Linked DNA regions of Homo sapiens. The protein of the gene in region 1 purifies or fractionates together with the protein of each later gene. This does not show direct contact. Each region holds a gene or a part of one and is shown on either strand. Other genes may lie near its edges.

Evidence for each region.
Region 2: the proteins of POLDIP3 (region 1) and KDM4A purify together in Homo sapiens (affinity purification with mass spectrometry; one large-scale study listed by BioGRID and IntAct). This does not show direct contact.

What each region holds. Positions count from the first base shown.
Region 1 is NC_000022.11:42,608,170-42,611,979, forward strand, and holds part of POLDIP3 (polymerase delta-interacting protein 3), read right to left. Parts: exon of another isoform or gene 3,744-3,810; intron 794-3,743; exon of another isoform or gene 566-793; intron 1-565. UniProt on the Homo sapiens protein: Is involved in regulation of translation. Is preferentially associated with CBC-bound spliced mRNA-protein complexes during the pioneer round of mRNA translation. Contributes to enhanced translational efficiency of spliced over nonspliced mRNAs.
Region 2 is NC_000001.11:43,666,942-43,670,751, reverse strand, and holds part of KDM4A (lysine-specific demethylase 4A), read right to left. Parts: exon of another isoform or gene 3,799-3,810; coding exon 3,661-3,798; exon of another isoform or gene 3,640-3,660; intron 3,009-3,639; exon of another isoform or gene 2,981-3,008; coding exon 2,733-2,980; intron 1,653-2,732; coding exon 1,453-1,652; intron 1-1,452. UniProt on the Homo sapiens protein: Histone demethylase that specifically demethylates 'Lys-9' and 'Lys-36' residues of histone H3, thereby playing a central role in histone code. Does not demethylate histone H3 'Lys-4', H3 'Lys-27' nor H4 'Lys-20'.

The DNA.
Region 1 (3,810 bases):
AAAGAAGTAGACGTGGGAGACTTCATTTTGTTCTGTACTAAGAAAAATTCTTCTGCCTTGGGATGCTGTTAATCTATAACCTTACCCCCCCCCCCAAAAAAAAATTAGCTGCAAGTGATGATGCACATCTGTAGTCCCAGCTACTCAGAAGGCCAAGGCAGGAGGATCAACTAAGCCCAGGAGGTCCAGGCTGCAGTGAGCCAAGATCACACCACTGGACTCCAGCCTGGGAGACAGAACAAGACCCTGTCTCAAAAATCAAAACAAAACAAAACAAAAAAAAACCACCACCACCAAAACAAAAAGAAACAATCTTCCTTATCATTATTGTCTGGTATTTCAGTTTCAATATGTTGTTAAACCCTTAAAAATTTATACATATATATAAAGGAAGGATAAACAGTCCGCAGGCTGAAGAAATCTTAGGACTCCGGTCATGCCCAGGGATACGGAGCACTCTCTAGCGACCAAAGGGTGAGCACAAGCAGCGAGGCGAGCGGGTGGTGCACGCACTGAGAACTCGCATACCACAATGCCTGCCTGGCAGGAAGGACCACCAAGATGCTTTGTGCTGGCATTTTTATCTATTTGAACAGCCTAAAAGGCACATTTAGGGGTGGGAGTTAACGGTAGTTGAGGATGTAGTAGGAGCTCCTCACGGTGGGAGGGAGTAAGCTATTTCCCTCAATCTGATGCACTCAGTTCCCTGGTTCCACCAGTGCTTTCAACTTCTTTCGTGAACAGCTTGAGGGGGCTTCAGTGTTCAGGCTTTTTATAATCACAGCTGCTCTTCCTGCATGAAAAGACAGCTATTCATCCCAGCAGGCAGCAGTACTGGTTTCAGGCAGGCATTAGTCATCGGAAATTTTTCAAATCAACACTCCTGCCAGGGGTAGGTCTCTAAAACACAGACTCAATTATGTTACCCTCCCGCTTCTAGAACTGCTGGGGGCTCCTTTACAAAGCCCAACCCCTGGGGGGGCCTCGGCTCTGGCTCCAGCTTATGGCTGCAGCCTTACTCCCCACTGCAGTGACTACTGACGTTCCCAAAACACATCCTGCACTTTTATCCTCAGTAAATGTTTGGGAGGGCGAAGGAGGAAGGTTTTGACTGAGTCTCGTAATGCCCCACCTCCATCGCACCGAAACTACAGCTCTGCAACTGCTTCCAGGGCTTCACCAGGTATTCCGCGAGGTCCTGGCAAGAGCGCTGCTGGCAGGTGAGAAGGCAAACGTTCCCTGGACCCCAAATTCTCTCCTCTATACCCCCTACGGGAACCTGGCATAGGTGTGATGACCAGGGAGGGTCTGTCTGGGCTATAGGAATATTTCACCCTCCTGGCTCTGTCTGGGGAGGGCAGGGCTACAGCCCATTCTGGACAGATGTCCAGTCCAAAAGATTCAGGCCCATGAAGTGGGGCCCTGGATTATTATAAAGCAGATTTTAACCCATGGGTTTAAAATCCTCTGGGTTATGGGAGGCAGAGGTTGCCATGAGCCAAGATCGCACCACTGCACTCCAGCCTGGGTGACAGAGCAAGATTCCGTCTTATAAAAACAAACAAAAAAAGCTTCTGGGTTAGGGGGTGTTCGTTTAGGTGTGTGTTTAGGTCATTTTTATAGAGAGAAAACAGCTTAATTCTAACTATGACTGAGGGTCAACTCTGAATTAGGTGTTTAAGAGACACAAAGAAAAACAAGACACTAAAATACTATCCCCTGCTGGGCGAGGTGGCTCACGCCTGTAATCCCAAGCACTTTGGGAGGCTGAGATGGGCGGATCACTTGAGGTCAGGAGTTTGAGACCAGCCTGGCCAACATGGTGAAACCCTGTCTCTACTAAAAATACAAAAAATTAGCCGGGCGTAGTGGCCCATGCCTGTAGTCCCAGCTACTCAGGAGGCTGAGGCAGGAGAATCGTTTGAATCCAGGAGGTGGAGGTTTCGGTGAGCTGAGATCGCGCCATTGCACTCCAGCCTGGGCAGCAAGAGCAAAACTCTGTCTCAAAAATAAATAAATAAAATAAAATACTATCCCCTTACCCAAGAGTCTTGTGCAGATGTTTCATTTTAAAACATAATTCGTTCCCTAGAGTTATGTAATAACTCATTTCCTCCCTTTTGTGTTTAGGTCTTTATTTCCTTTATCTTATTTCAACAAGGAAACAAGCAGTCAGTACCAGGACCAGAGTCCTGGGCTGAACTGCAAAGTTTACAATCCACCCTGTCCCCCAACAACCTCCCACTTCCAGCTCCAAGGACTCCCCAGATGAGGCGTCTGGCCCAGAGAGCTGCTCAACTCCAGCCTCCAGCACATTCAAGGCTGCCACACTGAACTGCTTGGAGGCAGCTGACAGAAAGCTATCCGCTGAGGGTTAAACTCATCGAACTAACAAAAGCGGACATGTCAACTGACTTAACTGGGGATGCCCTCATATCTAAAGGAAGAAACTGCTGGGCACAGTGGCTCACACCTGTAACCCCAGCACTTTGTGAGGCAGAGGCAGGAGGACTGCTTGAGTCCAGGAGTTCGAAACCAGCCTGGGCAACATGGCGAGACCTTGTCTCTACAGAAAATACAAAAATAATTAGCCAGGCATGATGGCATATGCCTGTGGTCCCAGCTACCTGGTAGGCTGAGGCAGGAAGACTGCTTAAGCCCAGGAGGCAGAGGTTGGAGTGAGCTGTGATCTTGCCACTGCACTCCAGCCTGGATGACAGAGCAAGATCCTGTCTCAAATAAATAAAGGAAAAAACCAACATGAGGGGCAGGCCAGCACTGCAACTGGTACCTAATGCTATCCTGAGGAGACTCTCTACGGATCTTTCACAACTAAAGTCACTGGAGATGTGCTGTGGTGAGGAAAGATAGCACCTCACCATGGAGGAAGGTATCACTCAAAACCACCCTCTTCTGGTTCAATCATTTCCCATTAGTCAAGGAATCTTTTAATAATTAATTGGAGGCCTAGGTAATAATAATGGTAATGACTTTTTTCTTTCTTTTTTAAAGAGATGAGGTCTTGCTCCGTCAACCAGACTGGGGTGCAGTGGTGCAAGCATGGCTCACTGCAGCCTTGAACTCAGGCAATCCTCCTGCCTTAGCCTCCCACACAGCTGCAGTTACAGGCATGAGCAACCACTGCATCCAGCTATGACCCTTTTCTTGACTCACAAGGTGTGAGGAACACAAAACAGAATGGCTGCTTTTGAGAACAAGCACATTCCACAAATGTGATCCTTGGGATCACAGGAAACAAAGTGAGCAGAGTGGTGGGGAAAGAGGTTATTTACACTTCCACAAGCTGGATCTTTGGCTATTTCTACTAAGAGGAAAAAAGCTTTCTTAAACAACAAAATTCTTCCTGGAATATCCATGCAACATTAAAACCAAAGTTCCAAGTACGCAGATTCTTCTAGGCAGTATGTAAAATAGCATGTATGGCCAGGCACGGTGGCACTTTGGGAGGCTGAGACGGGTGGATCGTTTGAGGTCAGGAATTCAAGACCAGCCTGACCAACATGGTGAAACCCCACCTCTACTAAAAATACAAAAAAATTAACCAGGCGTGGTGGCGCATGCCTATGGTCCCAGCTACTTGGGAGGCTGAGGCAGGAGAATCGCTTGAACCTGGAAGCCAGAGGTTGCACTGAGCTGAGATCATGCCATTGCACTCCAGCCTGGGCAACAGAGTGAGACTCCATCTCAAAAAAAATAAAGAAATAAAATAAAAATAAACTTACTGCAGGAAATGACATCTGTTCATTGAATTTGTTCAGATCTTTCACATTATCTTAACAGGGACCACTG
Region 2 (3,810 bases), on another chromosome or scaffold:
GTCTCTACTAAAAATACAAAAATCAGCCAGCGTGGTAGCAAGCATCTGTAGTCCCAGCTACTTGGGAGGCTGAGGTAGGAGAATCACTTGAACCCGGGAGGCGGAGGTTGCAGTGAGCCAAGATCATGCCTTTGCACTCCAGCCTGGGAGACAGAGTGAGACTCCGTCTCAAAAAAAAAAAAAAAAAAAAAAAAATTAGCCAGGCGTGGTGTATGCCTGTAGTCCCACCTACTTGAGAGGCTGAGGCAAGAGGATTGCTTGAGCCCAGAAAGTTGAGGCTGCAGTGAGCTGTGTTCACAAAGGCTTGGGCAACACAGTAAGACCCCGTTTCTAAAACAAACAAAAAAATTATGTTGTACAAGACAAATATGCACGATTTTATCTGTCAATATAAATAAATAAATTTGAAGAGAAAAAAGGGAAAGAAAATCTGCTGAAGAGAAGCCAGCCCAGCCCAGGGTGTCAGTCCACAGTGCTGCCTGGCTGTCGGCAGACCACATCTTTGGGTCATACCTGACCCAAGACAGATACAAGCCTTTCTCTAACAAATCTAGCCTCAATGACCTTCCAAGTGACTGCTAAACAGCACTGATCACACCACTCCCTCTCTTAAAATATAAATGGCTTCTTAAGCTTCCAAGTGAGCAAATGAAAATGGCAGACAGCCCTACATCATCTCCTATTTCTCCAGCGTCACCTTCTGGTCACACAGCTGCCTTCCACCCTAATATTCAATTGAGGGAAACTCCCCACCAGTTCCCCCAAGTGGACCATGCTATTAATATTTCCCATCTCTGCTGGGAACAGTGGCTCACGCCTGTAATCCCACTTGGCATTTTGGGAGGCCGAGGCAGGCGGATCACCTGAGGTCAGGAGTTCAAGATCAGCCTGGCCAACACGGTGAAACCCCATCGCTACTAAAAATACAAAAAAAAATTAGCCAGGCATGGTGGCAGGCACCTGTAGTCCTAGCTAGTTGGAAGGCTGAGGCAGGAGAATCGCTTGAACCCAGGAGGCAGAAGTTGCAGTGAGCCAAGATTGCGCCCCTGCACTCCAGCCTGCATGACAGAGCAAGACTCCATTTCAAAAAAAAAAAAAAAAATTCCCATCTCCATGCCTGTGCCCTGCTCCTCCCATCTGGGACTCCCTTTCTACATCCCTCCTCTCTCTCTGTCCGCCTGGGAAGGTCCTACTTACCTTGTAAGAGTCACCTTCACCAAAACCTCCAGTGTTTCCCTGACCCCTGACCAGGCAGAGGGAGGAGCTTTTCCCTACGTGTCCAGTCCTCCCTGTACATCCCTACCCAAAGCACTTCTCACACTCCAAGTATGCTATCTGCTCACGGACCTGTCACTCTGCCTTTTTTATTTCTGACCCAGCACTCAATATGGCATCTAACACGGGACACATATATGAGTTAGGGTTGTGGAAAATACACCATAGTCAACTAACCTGGGAAGGTAAGACCATCCTCAACTTGCCGCACAGAGCTATGGGTGGGCCTCACAGGGGCGAGGGCTGCCGGGCACTCCGTCATCTCATACTGCTCAGAACTCAGATCCTCCTTGGGGAAGAGCTCACTCTGACTCACCTCCTGTGGTATTTCAAGACAAACTCGGTGCCTCTTTGTCCCTATTCGGTGCTTGGCCAGGCTGCAAGGGAGAGGGCAAATCTTTTAAGAGCCCACATATACATCCACTTACTCAAACACATTCATACACATCCACACACAACCCAAAGTGAATGGCCAGAGCCTGTCAGGCCTGGCTCAAAACTCAGGGACACCTCTTATTTGTGACTTGAGACAAGGGACTTCACCTCTCTGACCTTGTTCAATCATCTGGAAAATACAGGTATTACCACCCACCTAACAGATTTGTTGTGAGGATTAAGAAAAGGTATGCAGAGTAGCTGGCAAAGTGCCTGGCATATAGCAGGTACCAAGGAACGGTTCCTCCTTTCTTTCCCATATGGCCCAGGATAAATTCTCCTCAGAGCACAGATCCCCTGGCTCAGCCACCAATAGCACTGCAGACTTAAATCACGACATTACCAATGCCCTTGAGTCTCATCCTCACTACACTTCTTTTTAAAAGACTCTCTGATATGATGAGAAAACATGACTTTTCTGGCTCAGAGGGAGCCCGACCTTCGCACATAAATGCCCCCGACCCTCATATAACTGACGCCTTGCTCCAGCAGACTACACGCCCACTACAGGTCTCTCATTCAGAAAGTGCCTGAATGCTCTGGCTCTCAGGTTTCTGGAGCCTTTACCAAGAACACTCCCTTAGCCAAGGCACAAACGGCATCTTAGAAACAGCCTCGGCCGGGCGCGGTGGCTCACACCTGTAATCCCAGCACTTTGGGAGGCCGAGGTGGGCGGATCACGAGGTCAGGAGATCGAGACCGTCCTGGCTAACACAGTGAAACCCTGTCTCTACTAAAAATACAAAAAATTAGCCAGGCGTGGCTGTAGGTGCCTGTAGTCCCAGCTACTCGGGAGGCTGAGGCAGAAGAATGGCCTGAACCCGGGAGGCGGGGCTTGCAGTGAGCCGAGATCGCACCACTGCACTCCAGCCTGGGCGACAGAGCGAGACTCCATCAAAAACAAAAACAAAAACAAAAACAAAACAAAACAAAAAAAACAAGAAACAGCCTCTCCACAGATTACAGGACCTACCCAGACATCCCTCCCTCACGCAGCCAGGACAAAAGGGCTGCTGGGTTACCTTGTCTTCAGGTCTCCTTCCTCTCCATCCTCCACCCCTTCCATGTCCTCCTCTGGGCACTCCTCCTCGTTGCCAGCTCTTGGAGGCAGTTCACTCTCCTTAAGAAACTCAGCTGCTTCTGGCGTGGGCAGAGTATGGTCAATAACTGTGTTGTCCTTCCCAGCTTTCCAAAGTTTGTACCTTTCTGGCTGGAACTTTCTCACAAACACATCCATGGAGATCTTCACCATGTCCTTTCTACAGGAGCACTGTCAGCAGGAACCAGAAGAGCACCAGGTGAGCATACCTTGCTGCTTCCAACTCACCCCCACGTCCTAGCTCCTCCCTCCACATGGAAACAAGTGCAAGATGGTTTATAACCAGATTGTTTTGGTTCACAGGCTGAGGGCATGTTATCCTTGCAGGACCTTCAAACATGAAGGGAAGCAGGGAAAAAAAGGCAGAGAGCACATGCTACTGGGGCAAATCTACCTGGGCACTAACTCGGGGTCACAGAGGGTGGTTAGGCTCTGCACTTAGGCCCCCAGGACGGTGAGCCACCTGCCCTTGTTCCCTGTCCAAGCCAGGAACACACAAGCAAGTCTACTACTATCAGTCAAAGGCCCGACCCTGCTGCTTCCCTAGAGTAAAGGAAACCCCTAAAAATTTCAACAGAGAAATCTCGGAATGGATAAACAAGAGTATTAACGTGTGTGGATGTGGTTTTAATGCCTAATGGACTTAAGAACCTCATTTTATACTTCCCAATTCTGAACACATTTTTAAAAATTCCTTATGAACACAAAATGTTAGTACTCTGACACATTGCTAGCTGCTTGTTTCTGAATTCCAGCAGCTCAAAGAAATACTCTAATCACCAGCCAACGTATCTAACCAGAATTTGCTCATTTTTGTCATGGTGTTATAGAAAGAAATCAAGCAGACTTACCAGCACAGCTTGCTTGCCGTACTCAATCCACCGACGGGTAGCAAAATTGGTAGACTCCGCACAGTTAAAACCATGGTTAAAGCCGGCATGGTAACCATAAGGGAAAGTGATCATAAACTCTCCAGCCTCTTGAGTCACCTGAACAAGAGC